2 separate regions of the Homo sapiens genome follow, and region 1 is linked to region 2. Evidence: fine-mapped expression QTL. A gene starts in region 2. The other region holds a variant in brackets. All regions are shown on one strand. Distances are between the middles of the regions. Region 1 has its middle 22 kb from the start of TPH1. Region 2 holds the start of SAAL1 (serum amyloid A like 1).

The links. PIP is the estimated chance that this variant, and not a neighbour inherited with it, causes the effect. A credible set is the group of variants that fine-mapping cannot tell apart.
Region 1: its variant is the best candidate, but not a certain one, in a credible set for the expression of SAAL1 in prostate (GTEx, PIP 0.68).

The regions. Positions count from the first base shown.
Region 1 is chr11:18,062,600-18,072,984 of GRCh38, reverse strand. No RefSeq gene overlaps it. Among named protein-coding and RNA genes, the nearest start is that of TPH1, 22 kb to the right of the region's middle. The variant G/A (reference allele first, on the strand shown) is at 5,586.
Region 2 is chr11:18,100,554-18,110,938 of GRCh38, reverse strand. It overlaps SAAL1 (serum amyloid A like 1), which reads left to right and starts at 4,857. Exons shown (of 12, transcript NM_138421.3): 1 at 4,857-5,032; 2 at 7,593-7,706. The coding sequence starts at 4,898. It also overlaps the pseudogene HIGD1AP5. RefSeq lists enhancers at 4,652-4,701, 4,852-5,111.

The sequences.
Region 1 (10,385 bases), 38 kb after region 2:
CCCATTTCCATACAGACTTGGAACTCTGTGAGAGAGTGGGCTAGAGATACAGCTTAAGGACTTAGGACAAAGCTCCAAGGAATACAAACATTTAAAGGGCTAACAATGTCGATGAAAGAGACAGGTTGTACAGAGACACTGGACTAAATTGGGAGAGATTTACAGCTTATAAGTGACAGTTCACAAGGAAATAGTACATTTGAAGCTGAACACCAGATCCACTGTTCTCACCTCTGAACATGACTGCTCCACCTAGGGCTTAGGAAAAGTAGCTCCGTGTGATGAATTGGCGCTGGACACTCAAAATCATAGCCTTCTACAGAAAGGTTTCCTATAAGGATATTTCCTGTAAGGAACTTATATTTCACACCCATGCTTGACCAAGCAGGTATGGCATAATGGGAAGCATGTTTTTTAAAAAGGGAAACAACACATTGGATATGCAATACGATTTTGATTTTGTTAAAATACATAGAATATTGAACAGAAATAGATCATATCAAACAGAAATAGAACACACATTAGTGGTGAAAATGAAAAAGAAAACCATTGATCAAGGTGATCAAGGGTCAGTATGACCTTGACCAAGTCAGTTAGCTTTTCTGAGCATCCTCATCTATAGAGTAGAGATGAGGTTAAATTGCCTACCCTGCAGGATTACTTGAAGTGTTAATGAGATTAAACTAACACTGGAAATTGTAAAGGCCTGTACAAATCTCACATATTAGGGAGCTTCCAAACACTAATGTTTTGTTCCAGGGAAATCTGTTTCTAAGGGGGCCTCACCAAAATGATGTTTGATGTTGGTTAAAATGAATTGGCTGATCACTTCTTAGGTTTTCTTGAGTGAGATCTGAAAAGTCTCAAAACTCTGAAAATTCTACAGCCATGTTTATTTTTCACTAGAGCTAAACTAAGTAAAGATGTACCATGCTTGATATTTCATTGCAAATCTGATTTGTACTGGAGCATCAAGAACTCTTTAGTCGTGGTCTTATTGTATACTTTGTGCTGCCTCTAAACACCTTTCCTTGTTTTTTGAGACGGAGTCTCGCTCTGTCACCCAGGCTGGAGTGCAGTGGTGCGATCTCAACTCACTGCAACCTCCACCTCCTGGGTTCAAGTGATTCTCCTGCCTCAGCCTCCCGAGTAGCTGAGATTACAGGAGCCCGCCACCATGCCCAGCTAATTTTTGTGCTTTTAGTAGAGATGGGTTTTCACCATGTTGGCCAGGCTGGTCTCGAACTCCTGACCTAAAGTAATCCACCCACCTCGGCCTCCCAAAGTGCTGGGATTACAGGCTGCAGTGAGCCACTGCACCCGTCCTAAATTAACTTTTAAACACCAGCTTCCTGTGTTCCACTGCCAAGGCTACAGCCCATATTTATAAAAACTATTCTGCTTGCTAGAACACCTCATAATTACATACTGACCTTGTATCAATATTGAGCTTGTTGACCTGCAGGCTGTTTAGAGGTTCAGGACTTACCAGACCATCTGCCAAATGCTGCCATTGGTAATGCTTTTCTCTATTACTGTAATGAAATCGCTAAAATCATTTCCTGTTCCCAGTCCTTGTTCAGATCTTCTATCTACTGTCAATAAAAGGATATTAAAATACTCAGAAAAGTCCACATATCCTTTTCATCCTGGTCCACAGTGTAGCACATGGCTTTATGTTTTAGTGTTGGAAATAATAAATGATCAATGACGTCAAGCCTGTTGTAATAAAAGAAGGCTGCTTATTAAACTCCCTCTCTCCAGCTGTTTTTCCTTTGACATCACGGGATCTGTTTATAATGACCTTTATGGGTTTTCCCCCTTACCATTCAGGCTTTATATGATTACAAGAGAAATTAAAGTTCTGTGAACAGTCTCTTCACAGAAGTGACACTTTCCTGCTCAGGCCCAATGTGCATGCAGGCTCCAACAACAGGATAGTGGGAAGAAGGAACAAAGAGGCTTCCCGTTCCCTTGGAGAAGCCTGACTTCCTGAAGTATGGGCTTGCTTCCAGGAAGCAGTATACATTGAAAGCAGTCAGTGGGTAAGGATTGTATATATTAATCACAGCCCACAATTCAAGCAAATGCATATACTATGGCTTTATTATGTCACTCAACATACGATCATGTAGTTTTGTTTTGAGTGGTGCCTGTTGAACCTAAACCATTTGAGGAATTTGGCATCTCTGCAAATTCGTTCTTTTGGGGGGCTGTATTTTGGAAGGCTGATGGCCTTTGTCAATCTATGAATGTGCTTCCTTCAAAATGCAACTGGTGTTGGACTTTTCCTATCTGTACCCAGGAATAAGCCAATTGGCAGGAATTTCTGGAGGAAACTCCTAAATCCTTTAACACTGCCCCTGCCCCCCATCACAGAGAAGTCTGTACTCTGTTGTCATTGGAAGAACAAAAGTTTGTTGATGCCCTGGAATAAAATCTCTAAATTAAATTCTCTAATTTCTTTTTATATTTATTTTAGGTTTGAACAAACCAGATAACTGTTCTGTTTGTCCTAAGTGACCTCTAGAGATTGTTGCCATTTCCATGATGTTCAATATTCAAAGCAATTTGGAGACTTCTTGTTCCAGATGCACCCCTTTGTTCGTTGCTCACATCAAGTGATATCTGACTGGTCTTTAAAGATCCAAATTTCACAATTTTGGATGAGCCTTGACTGATCTGAAAATGTTAGATTTTTCTCTTTCATTCTGTTTGAACATGCTTTAGTGTGAGTTGGCTATTTCTTTAGAGCAATTAAGGAAAAATGCCCAATTTCCCAGAACAACTCACAAAGTACTCATGGATTATTTCATTTTCTTAGGAAGTTGCCTACTTGCTAAAAGGTGTACCCTGAGCATTTGTGACTCCGAGGGAAACCAGGAACATCATGCTGCAGAAACCCTTTGGAGGAACGTGCCAACTGCTCCGTAACCATGAGCTGGCTCTCCTTTGATGGAGAGATTAATAGTTTCCATAATTATATCATCCTGGTTGTTCTGGGGCCAGAGTTTACTTAGACTTGAAAGAAATTGAAGTTAATTGAAAAAGAAAAAAAAATTCTTCCTGTCTTATTTCCCCTTTAAGCCTCTCATCTAGAGAAATGATGAGAAAGAGATTCAAGGATTTGTTGCCAATGGGAGCCAAAATGTTTCTTTTGAAATTGTAGATAAAAAGAACCAGAAGAAAGCAATTGGATGGTGGGGAGGGGGTAGTTATGGGAAAGGGGTTACAGCTCTGCCTAAATAATTCCAAACAACAGAAACACTGGGCAGCGGAGCCAGTGTACATGTGGCGGGTTGTCCCGGGGAGTGGACGTCGGTTCTGGAAACAAGTGCAGAAGGAGCAGAAGAGAAGTTTGGTAGTTGATGTGATTGTTAGTAGAAGAATTGGATTGGTCTACTGATTTTTATCTGTGTCTGTGTCTAATACAGAGGAGCTACCATCAGCTTATTTGCCACATCGTAGAGTTTGGGAATACTTATCTTTGGTTAAAATCCATTTTTTCTTGCTCTAAAATTTGAGCTCAATTTTTTCTTTGTAAAGCCCCTATCATCACTCTTGACCAGTTCTCTCAAACTGCACTCCAGTAAGATTGCTATTGGACCTTGGAGAGTTTCAGTGGGCGGACGATGTGGCCCTCCCTGGGAGAAATGGGATGTTAATAGAACATAGGTTCTATTGAGAGTGTCATGTCTTCAGTCAAAGATGAATTTCCAATATGTGATCACCAAGTGCTTTGTTGAAGCTTATTGAACCCGTAAGAGAGAAACTGAATTGTAGATTAACACTTCTCATTCATTCATTCATTCCAAAGTATATTGTGATTTGAACTTATTGTGTGTTAAGCACTGTGCTCAGTTAGTGGGACTAAGGAGGTGACAATTCAAGATAGGAGGAAGACAAGGGGGCTAGTTAATAGCTGTTCATTCCATCAGTTTCTGAAAGTTCAAGGTCCATCTCACTTCTCCTGAAGCTATGTACTTTCACTCTTCCAACTTCTATGCTAGTCGGAGATGTGGGGGTCTCTTGAGGATTACACAACTATAAGTGATGTATATATTTAGTGAGAGAATATCTCCCTGTAGTTTATATGCAGGCTCAACAGCACCCTTCCACCACTGCCCACCCTCCATGACAATTAAGGACAGCAGATAAATGCTTCCACCCACTCCTCTTTTGGGACTTAACAAGGAAATCACTCAGACCACTCTCATTCCAACCCAGGGCTTGGCCATATCTCACCTGTAGAGGGAGGTTCTGAATTTTAGCTTTCCTGTGATTCCTGAAGTTCCCATGCAATATCAATGCTGAGTTGAGAGCTAGTGGACATGCCAACACACCTGCATGGCAGGGAACGATTGTGCCACAGCAGAGACTAGAGGAATGATGTATATGTGAGAGGCTCAAAGGTTTGTTGCCAGTGGGAACTGTGATGAGGCCTACTCACTCAGGGAGTACTGTGGAGTCTTACCCAGGCCAAGAAAAACAAAATCCCTAAATTACATTAGCTTCACGACACAGCCTCACACAACAGTGAAGCAATCAGCATGTTGGAAACCAAGAGGCTAGAGTTGGAAAGAACATAATCCTCTCCACACCTACCGTGAGGTCTCACAGGTGTACCTCTCTTTCATAAAGTTGGGCTCCGTCTTAAGAGGAAGCTATTTAAGCACTGAATCTTTTTTTTTTTTTTTAATTAAAGACTGGGCAATTTTTTTTTTTTTTTTAGACGGAGGCTCACTCTGTCACCCAGGCTAGAGTGCAGTGGCACAATCTCGGCTCACTGTAGCCTCGACCTCCCAGGTTCAAGCAATTCTCCCACCCCAGCCTCCCAAGTAGCTGGGATTAAAGGCACCCGCCACCATGCCCCACTAAGGACTGGGCAATTCTTAAAGTCTCTATTTAAGTTATTGGACCAGAGTAAATTGAAACTGAATTGGGTCTTCAGTTTGTTAATTTTCCTGCTACTAACAGATGGGGGCTCCAGAGAAATAGCAGATTTGTCACAGGCAAAATGAAGCTGTTACCTTTCTCTCTGCATCTGAGCAATAGTATGAGTTGAATTTTGAGACCTAGACCCTACAATATGGGAAGAGTAGGAGGAGATGAATTTGCTGAAGTTATGATAGGTAAGATAGATAAGGGAGATAAAATAAGAATCCTTAGAGACTTTTGGAATCCCTATAGTTAGATATACTCAATATTCTTCCACATACATGGATCCATTTTCAAGAAAACAAAGAGCAGGATGGTAGATAAAAAAGAGATTTCATTATATTTCAGTAGGCTTGCTGACTGACTTCTTTTATATCCAGAATCTACAGGGAGCACCTAATATGTATGGTGAAGCCATGAAGCATGTCTATCCTGGGGTAAGCCTAAAGTATTCCTTTAAAATGCTGACACATCTAAAGAGAAAGATAAACTGGAATTCCACATCCAGTCTACAACCCATCTCCAATGTGAAACGGGAGACACTGTTGAACATATTCATTTTTATATTCAGCAAGCGTTTGCTGATGGCCAGCTCCATGTCAGGCACAGCACTAAATGCTGGGGGATACAGTGCTTGACATAGGGCA[G/A]TTGCTCCACAAATGTTAGTTAAATAAGTGAATGAAAACTATGTTCCCTAGCTGGAGGCTGACTTAACGTCAATAAGGCTTAACCCTTAAGGTAGTGGTTCCCAAACTTTCATGCAGATTGGAATCACCACAGGCTCTTTAAAAATGCCAGTGCCTGGTTTCTACCCCCAGACATTCTGATTCAATTGATATGGGGTGCGAACTGGGCACCAGGACTTTTTAAAAGCTCCCCAAGTGGTTCTACTGTATGGCAAAGTTTGGGAACCATGGGTTTAATGGCCCCTCACTTGGTCACGTGGTCTCCTTCCACGACTCTGGGAGGTGCCTAGCAATTTTGAATGTGAAATTTTATACTATTTTTATTGGACAAGGCCCCCAACTTGAATGATTTTCAGGTACCATAAAATCTGAATCTGCCCTTCTCCATCCTTGTGGTGGTCTTAGTCCAGTCAGCTGGTTGCTTATTGAGCACAAGGTTTTCAGAAGTGTAATTTGGCTGAAGATACAGATTAGCAGCCGTCTTATGGCTACCACCACATGGCAGCTAAACCATTACAAGCAACTGATGTCACCCTTTGTGGTTTTGTCTCCCTTATGTTTTGGCCCATGACCTTAACAGGGATTTTTGCAATGCTTTCAGAGAGAACTCCAGTGTGGAGTGGAAGCATTGGTTGCTACAAGTGCAAGGTTCTGTAGTTTTATCGAGGATTTTTTTTCTTTTTTGAGACACAGTCTTGCTCTGTTGCCCAGGCTGGAGTGCAGTGGCATGATCTCAGCTCACTGCAGCCTCTGCACCCCAGACTCAAGTGATTCTCCCACCTCAGCCTCCCAAGTAGCTGGGACCACAGGCGTGCACCACCACACCTGGCTATTTTTTAGTATTTTCTTTTCCTTTTTTTTTCTTTTTTTTAGATGGAGTTTCACTCTTGTTGCCCAGGCTGGAGTGCAGTGGTGTGATCTTGGCTCCCTGCAACCTCCCACTCCCAGGTTCAAGCGATTCTCCTGCCGCAGCCTCCCAAGTAGCTGAGATTACAGGTACCCACCACTACACCTGGCTAATTTTTGTATTTTTTAGTAGAGACAGGGTTTCACCATGCTGGCCAGGCTAGTCTTGAACTCCTGACCTCAGGTGATCTGCCTGCCTCGGCCTCCCAAAGTGCTGGGATTACAGGCATGAGCCACTACTCCTGGCCTTTTTTTGTATTTTCTATAGAGACGGGGTTTCGCCATGTTTGCCCAGGCTTGTCTCGAACTCCTGAGCTAAAGCAATCTGCCCGCCTTGGCTTCCCAAAATGCTGGAATTACAGGTGTGAGCCATTGTACCTGGCCTGAATTTTGTGTTATATTGATTGGGTTTCATGGTCAGCATAAAGTTTTTGCCTTCATAGCATTTCCAGCACAAGGGCTTTGCAAGAAACACACCATGGTCCTTTTCTGTGTCCCTGGAGTTCTCTACCTCACCATCCCCCTACCCTTCTTGGAAGAGTTGCCTGGTGACACTTACGAGGCCGATTCAAAGCTCTACAAAATTTATGCAATGATTTTATTACAGAGGCAAACAATACTGATTTCTGCTGTACACGTGGGCTGGTTGGCAGAGGATGGTCACATGTGCGACTTCCTCTTCTGTGCTTTTGGCCAGGTGCGCACCTGGGAATGTGTCTTTGTGACTCACTGGAGTGAACATGCACACAGCCTGAAGGGGAGAGAATGGAGCCTGCTGTGCAGGAGCTGACACCAGGCCCTCAGCGTCGTTTGGAAGTGGCTCTGAACTTGCTAAGTGGCTGTCTGCGTTGTATTTACTCATATCATCTACAAAGTAGAGGCTGCTCTGGGGTTCTCTGAGGCTTCTTTTTCCTGGCCAGGCTTGTTGTGAGTCCTGGCTCCTTTGGTATATCAGACACTTCCTCAGCAGGTTACATCCACGTCATGTGTGCACCTGATTATCAGCGGCTTTGTTGCCCACTGAGGAAAATGGACCCTCCCTCTCCAAGTGACCAGCAAAGGCAGTTTAAGGTCATGCTGCTGCTCTCTGTAGGGTGGGGCTTGGGCCTTTTTGATTACCTTCTGCCGCAATGGAGCCTGTAAAATCTTCTAATATCTGGCACCCATGAGGAGGTGCCCCTGATTAGCCTCTTCCAGGGTGGAGTATGGGGCATTTATGCTATGTAGATAGGATTTTCCCAAAGATGCGAGGAAGCTCTCTCCTTCTGTCCATTTGGAACTCCAGGAGTGGCAGTCCTTGTCTCTCCACATGGTGTATTTTCTTCTCTTAACTCTCCCAGATGGTCACATTTGGATTCTCTCAGAATCTTCCTGATTTCCATGAAAGCTCGGTCACAGTACCTTAAGCTCAGTTGGAGAAACAAAGAAGGGAGGTTAATCATCACGTTTGCTCATTTCCCCTGATGTAGACTTATCATACCCTTTCATAAAAGCTTCAGAGGTCATTAATTTGACAAATGGTACTGGCTTTGCTTTCTGCAGCCTCAACAAATGCTGTTTAACTTGTTGGAGAAATGGCTAGTGGCACTGTATGAGCAGGGCGATAATGCCTCTTTGAACAACACAAAGCAAACATTAAGACAGCAGACATTGAGGGAAATCAAGTGTGCCCAAGTAACGGGGCCAATTTCCCCAAGCACAGTTGATTCTCATGCTATAAGATAGTTTTCCTCACTCCAAAATCTGAGTAGCCAGCACTTCCTAATGATTCAGACCATTCTGTGTTTCCATATTAATGGCATTTTTGCACAGTTTGCGTTATTAACTTGAGCAGGAATGCTGCATGGTACAACTCCGGGGGGCACCATTCACGCTGTCTTTAATGTAAATCACGAGTCCTAGTCTTAGAATGTCTTGGCTCTTCCAGATGGTATTGAGTGCTTTCATAATTATCACTAAAGGATTGGGAGGTTTCTATATGATTCAGAACCCAAACTTAATGAAGTCTTAAAAACCTGAAGGAACTGAAAAATGAAATATATCTTTGGGTTCCTCAATCTACTTTTTGAAATGTTGTGGTACATTGAGGTAAAATGTTTCCAAGGATAAGTGAGGCCTTAGGTTCTGTTCCCCCTCTGCCACTTACTGTGTGACTTTTGGCAAGCTGTAATGCACAGCAAATGAAAGGCTTTGTCGTGATCGATACTTGTTGGGCCATTTTGCTCAGTGTGTTTGAAATGGCCACAAGCCAACACTTCATGAGGCAATGTGTTGAAGCAGAGAAGTTCAAGTGATAAACAGGGTTTCCAATTGTAATTTTAAAAAGTGTAATGAGAATTGAAGGGGACTTGGAATGAAATTTGTGTAATGCTGTGTGTAAACAGACTTGTGCACCACTCTTCCCGTAAAGCCATTTGGGTGTCATCTGATATGAGAGCTCACTGAAGATGTCATGTTGTGAAGATTACTATGATTTTTGCAGGGAGATTTAGTAGATCTGGATCTTGAGGACTTAAGAGATTATGTCCCGGCCTAACCTCTCTCCTCCATCCCTTTGCTTCATCAAATTAATTTCAATTTGAACATGGATAGAATGCCATATGGCTTCTAACATCTGAGGTCTTAAAGAAGCAGCCTCTGTTTCACACGCGTGGAGGCATAAATGGAGCTTTGACCTTCATGATTAAGGATTACAGACAGCATTTTGTTTTTATTATCATGTCTTGCATTTCTCTCACATCTCACATAGACTTGCTTTTTTCTTTTTGTGTTTGAGACGGAGTCTCAATCTGTTGCCCAGGCTGGAGTGCAGTGGCACGATCTCCACTCACTGCAACGTCCGCCTCGTGGGCTTAAGTGATTTTCGTGCCTCATCCTTCCAAGTAGCTGGGACTAAAGGTGCCCGCCACCATGCCCAGCTTCATTTTTGTATTCATATATTCCTTCTCAACAAGCATGTATTGGATAATTACTTATTAACAGCCTTCTCTGTAATAGGCACTGTGCTGGATCCTGCCGTAGAGGTGAAAGGCACAGTTCCTGCCCTGAAAGAGTTTATGGCCAAGGAGAGAAACAAAGGAACAAATATTTACAATGCCATAGACAGAAGTAAGCTTAGGGAGCGTTCCCACGGCAACTGTGGTTTCTGGAAAATGGTTGTCGCTTGTTACAGGGATCTCCTTCAAGTAAATGATAAAATCTAAGCTAAACATGTACATATTCATTCACTGGAGTTCAAATCACGTTTCCTCTTAGAAGAGGTAGCATGATGAGTAAAACCACACAGAGCTGAGAGACAGAACAGGTGGTTTCTAGTTCATGTTATGCCATTTACAAGCCGTGTAACTTTAGATAAGTCACCGAACCATCTGAGTCTCAGTTACTTTAATGACCAAAGTAAACAATATAAATAAAAGTACTTTGAAAAATGTAAAGCACTATATAAATTTTAGAGATTGATATCAGAAAAACCTTTAGTTTGCTGCATGCACACAATATATAGCTGAAGAATAGTAAGCACAACTTTTACCTTGGGCCTAATTTTTCCCTGAAGAAAAATTTCCCTAATCTTTCTTAACCATACACATAAATCACATTGTGATGTCCAAAACTATTCTTTTTACCTAAATCTCCAGTCACAAGACAATTAGCGTGCATTTTAAACTCTCAGTTTGTATATTAGCATGGTATTAAAATCTCTATAGATCAGCCTAAGAATAATTTTTCAGAGAATGATTTTTCCTGAGGTGTGCATACGAGTGGCAAGGCTACACTTTGCTTTGATTTCACTGCACACAAAAAAGGAAAGTTCTTCTCTACGCTTTCCATACACCACATACCCACATTTGATTTACT
Region 2 (10,385 bases):
GACAGTTACTATTCATGGTGCGGTGACCAAGGGCCAGGCACTGGTCTAAGTGATTTCTTCTGTTATCCACTGGATCCTCACACTTTAATTATCCTTATTTTAGAGCTCAGGAAACGTGAGGCACAGACAATTTAGATAACATACACAAGTTGCACTGCTAGTTTGATGCTAGAGTCAACATTCTGAACCATTTGCTGTAACTAGCAATTGCATTGGAGTTTAGAACTTATAAAACACGCTTGCACATATGAGTTCATGTAATCACTGCTCCTATGAATGTATTCCATGAGCTACCCTAGTTAGTAATCTATGAATCTCATATCAAATCTGTGTGTGTGAGGAGCAATAAGGAGCTGAGAAAAAACCAGCAAGATGGAGGAGGTTGCATCGCTATTCAAGGGAGCTGTGGAGAGGCGTCTCCAGCGATGGAGGTGGTATATGTGAAGAATCCACAACACACATACACAGAATCAGCTTCAAACACCTGCTGGGCCCAAAGAACATGAAACCATCTTATGAAAACACCAGTCAAGTAAGAATTTTCCTTTCCCTCCCCTCTCACTTCCAATCCTTCCCCCCTAATCGGGGAGAGGTCAGAAAGAGCAGCTGTCTATCTGTGGGAGGAGGAAGCAGGGAAGGAAACAAAGTCATCACCCCCCTCCAGACTGAAGTACCCATCTATAGTGGGCTTAACTAGGAAAGGGGAGAGAAATTTTCATTTTAAATGAATTGGAAGCTTCAAATCATGACTTGGACCTGGACTTTCTAGTTACCATTTTGAGATAAACTAAATGCCATCAAACCTGTGGCTTTAAATTACTACCTGTATAACACTGTTTGTTTTGTTTTGTTTTGTTATTTGAGACAGAGTCTTGCTCTGTTGCCCAGGTTGGAGTGCAGTGGCATGATCACCACTCACTGCAGTCTCAACTTCTTGGGCTCAAGCTACCCTCCCACCTCAACCTCCTGAGTAGCTGGGACTACAGGTGCTCCCCACCACACCTGGCTAATTTTAAAAAGAACATTTGTAGAGACAGGGTCTTACTATGTTGCCCAGGTTGGTCTTGAACTCCTGGGCTCAAGTGATCCTCCCACCTTAGCCTCCCAAAATGCTGAGATTACAGGCATGAGAACACCGTACCTGGCCTGTACAGTACTTTCAATAACCTTTGAGTAACTAGGGAAGGCATGAATTGACTTGTGTTCAGGATCAAAGTGAGAGATATTGGGACAAAAAAAAAGAAAGGAAAAAAAACCTGCTTTCTGGTTATAAAATGTAATTCTGTTTGATTAGCACACTGATGACATTGGAGAGTGTGTAATAACTAAGGATTATGATTAATCCAATTCTGTGCACCTGAGATCCAAAGAGAAAAGAAAAAAAACAAAACTCATGGAGCCTAGCTGTGAGTATCAGACTCAAATAAAAGTTGAGAAGACATTGGGAGGTTATCTCAGTAATGCCAACAACTTACAAATGAATTTTAGACTGGCCTCTTTCTTTTTTTTTTTTTTTTTTGAGACAGGATCTCACTCTGTCACCCAGGCTGGAGTGCACCGGTGCGATTTCAGCTCACTGCAACATCCACCTCCCAGGCTCAAGCCATCTTCCCAGCTGGGAATACAGGTGTGCGCAACCATGCCTGGCTAATTTTCATATTTTTTGTAGAGACCAGGTTTCTCCATGTTTTCCAGGCTGGTCTTGAACTCCTGACCTCAAGTGATCAGCCCACCTCAGCCTCCCAAAGTGCTAGGATTATAGGCATGAGCCATCGCGCCCAGTCCTGGCCTCTTCTTTTTAAAACTCATTTTTATTTTATTAAGAATAAAACAAATAATATACCATGAGTATATGTCAAAATTTAACATAAATTATATATCATAAACCAGCAAGTATTGAATTGTGGACTCACATCAATATGATGGTTGGTAAACATAACCTATATGTGTGTATATGATAAAAGAAATGAGTTGGGAGGCCGAGGCGGTGGATCACGAGGTCAGGAGATCGAGACCATCCTGGCCAGCATGGTGAAACCCCGTCTCTACTAAAAATACAAAGAATATTAGCCAGGCGTGGTGGTGGGCACTTGTAGTCCCAGCTACTCGGGAGGCTGAGGCAGGAGAATGGTGTGAACCCGGGAGGCGGAGCTTGCGGTGAGCCGAGATCGTGCCACTGCACTCCAGCCTGGGCGACAGAGCGAGACTCCATCTCAAAAGATAAATAAATACATTAATTAATTAAAATAAAATAAATAAAAGAAATGAGCTGGGTATGGTTGCTCATGCCTGTAATCTTAACACTTTTGGAGGCTGAGGTGGGAGGATCACTTGAGATCAGGAGTTGGAGACCAGCCTGAGCAACACAGGGAGACCTTCTGTCTCCAAAAAGGTAACTCTCTGCAAGCCTGACTGCTGAAACTGCCTCTTGTAAACGGAGACCAGTTTTATCTAACAACTGCTGAAACAACCTACTGTGACTCTAAGACTAATTTTACCTGCTGCCATCTCTCACCAATCCTAGCTTGCAAGCTCCCCCAAACCTTACTAAAACCAATAAAATTTCTTTCAAAACAACGTGTAACATTTCTCCTTTTTATAAAAGCCCCAACCTTCTCTTTGTACTTCAGATATATTGAAGACGCCCACCTGTCTCATCTGTGTGTATGCCCTGAATTGTAATTCTTACTTTCTAAATCAATTGCTTTAAATTTAGAGATTCATCTCTATGTTTTGTTTGACTTTGACGTAAGTATCACAGTAATTCTAGGCAAACATTGGACACCTTCATTATGTTTTCTAATATAGTTATGACTGAGTATTTAAAATATTCATGTGGACATTTTATTTTAAATAATTTCGGCCGGGCGCGGTGGCCCGCGCCTGTAATCCCAGCACTTTGGTAGGCCGAGGCGGGCGGATCACGAGGTCAGGAGATCGAGACCATCCTGGCTAACACGGTGAAACCCCGTCCCTACTAAAAATACAAAAAAAAAATTAGCCGGGCGAGGTGGCGGGAGCCTGTAGTCCCAGCTACTCTGAAGGCTGAGGCAGGAGAATGACGGGAACCCCAAGGGGCGGAGCCTGCAGTGAGCCGAGATCGCGCCACTGCACTCCAGCCTGGGCGACAGCGAGACTCCGTCTCAAAATAAATAAAATAAATAAATAAATAAATAATTTCATGTCTCCATTCCTGTTTGGTCATTATATTGATATTTTTGAAATTTCATGTGGAAGTAGCTTATATCATCTATAAATTTAATTCCATTAAATCAAAGTGGGTACTTGTAAATCAATTCCATCATAGGTAATTTTTTTAGTTTAATGTTTACGATTCTTATGGAGAAAGAAGTGTTTTTCATTTACCTTTGCATGGGTGCTTAAAATACACATTTCTATTTCAAGATGACACTGAAAAATTCTTCTAATATAACAGCAGCAAAAATGTAATTCTGCAATTACAAAAGTGCTAAACTGAAATCCATAATTAAGGTTTTCTCATGTTTACAATTGTGGTTCTTTAATCAATACTAATACTATGCAGGTCTGTTGTAAGGTTTCTAGATTCGGTTTAAACACACGCACACAATACTGTCAGTTGTAGGAGGCTTTACAAGTTATATTTCATGCACTTTTTTTTAAAGAGTTCTAAAAGAGCCAACCAGTCCACAAGACAGACAGAAAAAAAGTTAAATTAACTGGAGTAAATTGGACTCTTAACATTCGAAACATGCAAGATTCTGCAGCAAACTGGGAGTACTTCAGGATTGGCCTGCTATCTTCCTTAGTATTAATTTCATCTTAACAGTTTAAGAAGTTGGACATTTTAACACCATCAAGCGCATTTAGGTGACGTGTTTCTTGTGTGTTAACTTGGCTCCCCGGAATGATCTAGTTAGTGAACTAGTCACTAATAATTTGGTCACCAGGCAAATCAAGCCTACACGAAAGGAAGCGACTATTCAAAATACCGTAGTATCATCTGAACCTACCCAAATAATTTATGTTCAACATAAACATGTAACTTCAATAATGAGATGACTCATTAATGAGTCAAGCTCCTCCAACAAGACAAAGACAACATCTCTTCTTCTAAGGTTTAAGTTTTGCATAGAAATCCGGATACATGGAATAGCCCATACCAACAGTCATTGCTCCTACAACAAAGCTGGACTGCCACACGCATGTGGATCAGGTGACGTGATATTTTAGTATTTCCCCTGCTTTTCAATTTGTATAATCCGTATGCAGCAACTACTGCAAAACCTGCCATTCCAATGGGGACAAATGGTGCCTCTTTAGTTTTTCGAATCACTTTGGATCCCTGGAATCCCTCACAAGCCATCCAGCTTCCCCTACGGATATTTTTAGGAATGGCAACAGTGGCCAGAGATCAGAGGATTATATTATTAGGGTTATACAACTTTTATATAAAAAAAGTGGCTTCTGACCAGGCGCGGTGGCTCACGTTTGTAATCCCAACACTTTGGGAGGCCGAGGCAGAAGGATTGCTTGAGCCAGAAGTTCGAGACCAGCCTGGGCAACATAGATCAGAAGGCGAATAGAATAAGTCCGCTAGCTTTGAGATTCACATCTGTTCCTGAGGCTTCCTCACTGCTCCCCACCCTTCCTTCTTCAATCAGTCTAAGAGCTCCTGGAGAAATGGAACACCTGATTCAGTGAGGGTGACAAATAATTATGAGTATGTTCGTGCCAGGGTCCTCGATAGGATGGGGTGGGGGAGGTCAAGCCGCCTTGGCAGCTGGCCAGGCTCCGAACAGCAGATGGCGCTGTAGGGGGAGTCCCACCGGGTACGCCGGGCGCTCTGGCACTAGGGCGCCGGTCGTCTCCTCCGCAGCTTCCGGCACGGCCTTCAAGCGCGGGACGCGACAAAGTCATGGACCGCAACCCCTCGCCGCCGCCGCCGGGTCGCGACAAGGAGGAGGAGGAGGAGGTGGCCGGTGGAGACTGCATAGGGAGCACGGTCTACAGCAAACACTGGCTCTTCGGCGTCCTCAGCGGACTCATCCAGGTGTGGAAACTCGCGCCACGCGTGGGGTGTCCCTACATCCCCCAGGCACCGGGGCTCCGCCTCTGGCGAATCCTCCTGCCCCGGGAGCCGCCATCCCCACAAAGACCCCTCCCCAGGCGTGCGCTGCGGGACCTTGCTCCTTGCGTTTCGCCGGCCGCTGCGGACCCCAAAACTATCTGGGCCCCCTCGGGGTCTCTCGACACAAAGGGAAGTATAATGGTAGGGATGCTGAAATACTTGCCGTTCTATTTTGCTTTCCCAAGTTCTCCAAAAATACATGATCGTGTAACTGCATTCCTCGGGTTTTGCTCCCCATCCCCACTGTCATTTCTGAAGCCCAGGTCCTTAATTTATGTATTTCATGGACTATCGTTGTAATAGAATAAATGGTGACTTTAGGGTTATACAACTTTTATATTAAAAACGTGGCTTCTGACCAGGCGCGGTGGCTCACCTCTGTAATCCCAACACTTTGGGAGGCCGAGGCGGAAGGATCGCTTGAGCCAGGAGTTTGAGACCAGCCTGGGCAACATAGACCTGGTTTCTACAAACTTAAAAAAAAAAAAAAAAAAAAGCCGGTCGTGACGGTGCACGCCTGTAGTCCCAGCGACTCAGGAGGCTGAGGCTGGAGGATCGCTTGAGCCTGAAGTTGGAGGCTGCAGTGAGCTATGATCCAGCTTCTGCACTCCAGGCTGGGGGACGGAGTAAGACCCTGTCTCAAAAAAACAAAAAACGCAGCTTCCTTACCCACTAGCTGCAGGTCACCTAACGGCTCAGAACCTCTATTTGTCCCTTAATTTCTATAAAATGGGATTATAATATTTATATTATATATAAGGTTATTGTGTAGGTTAAGTGAGATTATAATGGCAACAGAGTGCTTAGCATGGTGTTTGGCTTATAGGAGGCTGTCAGTAAATGTGTTTTCTTCCCCCCATGTTTCCCTAATTGGTTCCTCTCCTCCTATTGTCTATCCTCTCCAGTCAATTTTCTACACAGCTGCCAGAATAATCTTCTTTAAAGACAGGGCTATTCATGATACTGCTCTTAGTTCTTTTTGCCTGGGAGAAAAATGCATGTTTCTTGAAGTTTGGAATCCAGGGCTGTTTGTACATTTTCCAGCCTCATCTTCTCATGATACACTGTGTTCCATCAACTCTGAACTGTTCACCATCCCCAAACATGCTAGGCCCTTTCTTAACTCTGAACTCTTGTGCTTTCCTCTGAATACTCACTTCTCTCCTTCTTCACATGACAAACTACTATTCTTCCTTTAAAATTTAGCTTAAATATCAGCACCTAAGGGAAGGTTCCCCATCTTCTCCTAGGAATAGGTCATTGGTCCATCGTTTTTGCTACCAGAACTCTTTGTCCACAATTCAGTTGAATCACTTTGCCTTTTCTAATATGACTATCCCTTTACATGTCTTTCCCCACTAGATCCTAAAAGTTAAAAAAAAAAAAAAGCTTAAATGTAAGGGATTATATCTTACTTGTCTTTGTATATCTACCCCAGTGCCTAGCAACAGTATTTACTTTGTGAATGTTGAAAGAGTAGATCTACCCAAGGTACTACATTTTTAAAAGAAGATTTTTGCAAGAGAAGATACTTTGCTGATAGCCTCTTTGTGACTTCTAAACGATTATGGGTTAATATTAAAGTAAGTGCTCACTTAACATCAGTAGGTTCTTGGAAATTGTGACTGTAAGCAAAATTACTGATAATGAAACCAATTTTACCATAGCTAATTGATATAAACAAGAGTTAAGTCCCTGTGGCATATTTCTGGACACAAGAACATCACCAAACTTCTAAATGAGGACCTAAAACACTTCTAATATTAAACATTGAGATAAATGTGAGCTATAATACGTTTAGGAAAGGTTAATAAAAACAAGATAATTATTCACCCAGTTTTGGTGAGTTAGTGAGTGATGGTGGTTGTAGTGATTATCACTACAACCTTTATTCTTTGATTGTGTTAAATCAAGGAATAAATGTTTACAAAGCAAAAATGATCACCTCTTACTACTGTACAGTCCAAAAACAATAACAAATAAGGCAGGCTTACTGAGCACTTTCCTACCACATAATTATTGTCACGCATCTCTATGGTTATTGTCTTCTTTACAGATTTTTGTTTTATAATAATTTGTATTCATCCATTTCCCAACCCACTTGCTCTGGTTCAGGGTTGAGGGTGGCTGGAGCCTGTACCAGCAGTTCAAGGTGCAAGGCAGAAACCAGCCCTGGACAGGATGCCATCCCATCACAGGTACACACACACCCACACTCACTCAGATTGGGACCATTTAGATACCCGTTGTGCTAATGTGCAAATTTGGGGGATGTAGGAGGAAACTAAAGTACCTGGAACAGACTCATGCACTCTTGGGGAGAACATGCAAACTCCACACAGACAGTGGCCCTGGCCAGGAATCAAATTTTTTTCTCATCAGCGTTACGAGGAAATGTTATTTGATCACCTGCTGTATTTGGGTACCTGGTTAGTATTGTAGACAACTTTTATTCATGTTTTCTTTCTTTGTGTTTCTGAAGATTGTTAGCCCTGAAAACACCAAATCTAGCTCAGATGATGAGGAGCAGCTGACGGAGCTTGATGAAGAAATGGAGAATGAAATTTGCAGAGTATGGGATATGTCAATGGATGAGGTATGAGGCTGGAAACAAAACTCTGAAGACTGTTGGGTGAGGAGATGGTGAATGAATGTTTTAAAAACGGTTCAGTCCTTCACTCTGGGGAAAGGCTTTATCTCCTGTCTGTAATCACACCCATATATGATATAGGGAATGAGATCCCAGGGGCTATAAATGCTAAACTTCTGTCTTTGAGGCTGGAGGATTTGAGCTCTCAACAGATTCGGACTAAATACGTAGCTCTTATGAATGTATTCCTATACACATGTAGGCCGGGAAAGTTCTGATACTTACCTACCTAAAGAGAGCTCTGGCCATATATTTGACAGCAGGTTAGGAGTTAGAAGACCACTGATATACCATGATAATATTAGAAGGAAAGGACAATAAATAATTATATGTCTGTAATTGCAGTATTAATCATAGTGTTTTAATATCTGTATTTTATTCTATAGCTCAAAAGCATTTTCATATATAGTATTCTATTTGATCTTCACAATAACCCTGTGATGTAGGTAGTACCCTTATTTTACAGTTAAGAAAATAGAGGCCAAAAGACATTAAATGACCTATGTAATCTTTCTTGTTTTATTACCTGGACTTTAGCAATAGCTTCCTGATTAAAATCCTTGTTTTAGTCTCTTTCACCTCCCTTCTGTCCTCTACATTGCCACCCGTGTTACCTTTTTTTCCGGAAATACAGACTTAATTGTACTCATTTTCTTAAAAATTGTCAATGGCTATTCATTGTTTCAGTCATTTTATTTAAAACTTTATTGAGGTATAATTAACACCAAAAAACTGCATATTGTTTTGAAGTATCATTGACATTGATTTTTTTTTTTTTTTTGAGATGGAGTCTCTATCACCTAGGCTGGAGTACAGTGGTGCGATCTCAGCTCACTGCAATCTCCGCCTCGAGGGCTCAAGTGATTCTCCTGCCATAGCGTCCAGAGTAGCTGGGAGTACAGGTGTGAGCCACCAATCCCTGCGAATTTTTATATTTTTAGTGGAGACAGGGTTTTACCCTGTTGGCGAGGCTGGTCTTGAACTGCTGACCTCAAATGATCCATCCTCCTCGGCCTCCCAAAGTGCTGGGATTATAGGAGTGAGTCACCGCACCCAGCCAATAAACTTTGACGGATGTGTACGCAGATTAAGCTGTCACTGTAATCAGGATACAGCGCATACCCATCACCCCTGAAAGTTTCTTTATGGTCCTTGGTAGTCTCTTCCTCTTGCCTCTCCATTCCTCCATCCCCTCCAGGCAACCACTGATCTGCTTTCTGTCACTACAGATTAGTATGTATTCTAGAGTTTTATATGAATGTGCTCATATGCTTTTTTTGGTCTGGCTCTTTTATACAGCATAATTATTTTGAGATTCATCCATGTTGTGTATATCAGTGGCTTTTTTTTTTTTTTTTATTGCTGAATGGTATTCCATTATATGTATATACCACAATTTATTTTTTACCTGTTGATGAATGTTGGAGTTGTTTAAGGCTTATTACAGATAAAGCTGTTGTGAACTTTTGTATACAAGTGTGTATGGACATATACTTTGTTTTTCCTTGGGTGAATACCTAGAGTGGTGTGTTAGTCCATTCTCATACTGCTATAAGGAAATACCTGAGACTGGGTAATTTATGAAGGAAAGAGGTTTAATTGACTCTCAGTTCAGTATGGCTGGGGAGGCCTCAGGAGACTTACAATCATGGCAGAAGGGGAAGGGGAAGCAGGCACCTTATTCACACGGTGGCAGGAAGGAGAAGTGCGAGCAGGGGAAATGCCAGACGCTTATAAAACTATCAGATCTCATGAGACTCACTCATTATCATGAGAACAGCATGGGGGAAACCACCCCCGTGATTCACTTACCTCCACCTAGTCTTGCCCTTGATACGTGGGGATTATGGGGATTGCAATTCAAGGTCAGATTTAGGAGGGGACACAGAGCCAGACCATATATCAAGTGGCATGGCTGGATCATACGGTAGGTGTATGCTTAACTTTTTAAGAAACTTTCAATTTGTTTTCCTAAGCAGTTTTTTACCATTTTACATAACCACAAGCAGTGTATGAGACATAATTCCAGGTCCAATTTCTCCTCAACCTCACCAACACTTAGTATGGTCAGTCTTCTTAATTTTAGCCATGCTAATAAGTATGTAATGATAGCTCATTGTGATTATAATTTGGACTTCCTTAATTCCTAATGATGAGCATCTTTTCATGTGTTTATTTGTACTCTGTGTATCTTTTTTGGTGAAGTACCTGTTTGAATCTTCTGCCTGCTTTTTAATTGTGTTGTTTTCTTACATTTTCTTCTAAAAGTTTTATAATTTTAGGTTTTACATATAAGTCTGTGATCCATTTTGAGTTGATTTTTGTATAGTATATGGTGCAAGGATGGATGAAGTTTATTTTTTTGCTTATGGATATTTAATTGTTCAAGTTCATTTGTTGAAAAGACGATCCTTTCTCCACTAATTGCTTTTGTGTCTTTGTCAAAAATCAGTTGTCCACATACTTTATAGTTTGAAATCTTTTCTTTTTAAAGATAGACATCAAGCACTATAGAATTTTCCCTAAATATTTATGCTTTACCAGTATTCCACAATTTCTGATATGCTGTGTTTACAATTTTTTTTGAGACAGAGTCTCGCTCTGTATTTTTTGTAGAGATGGGGT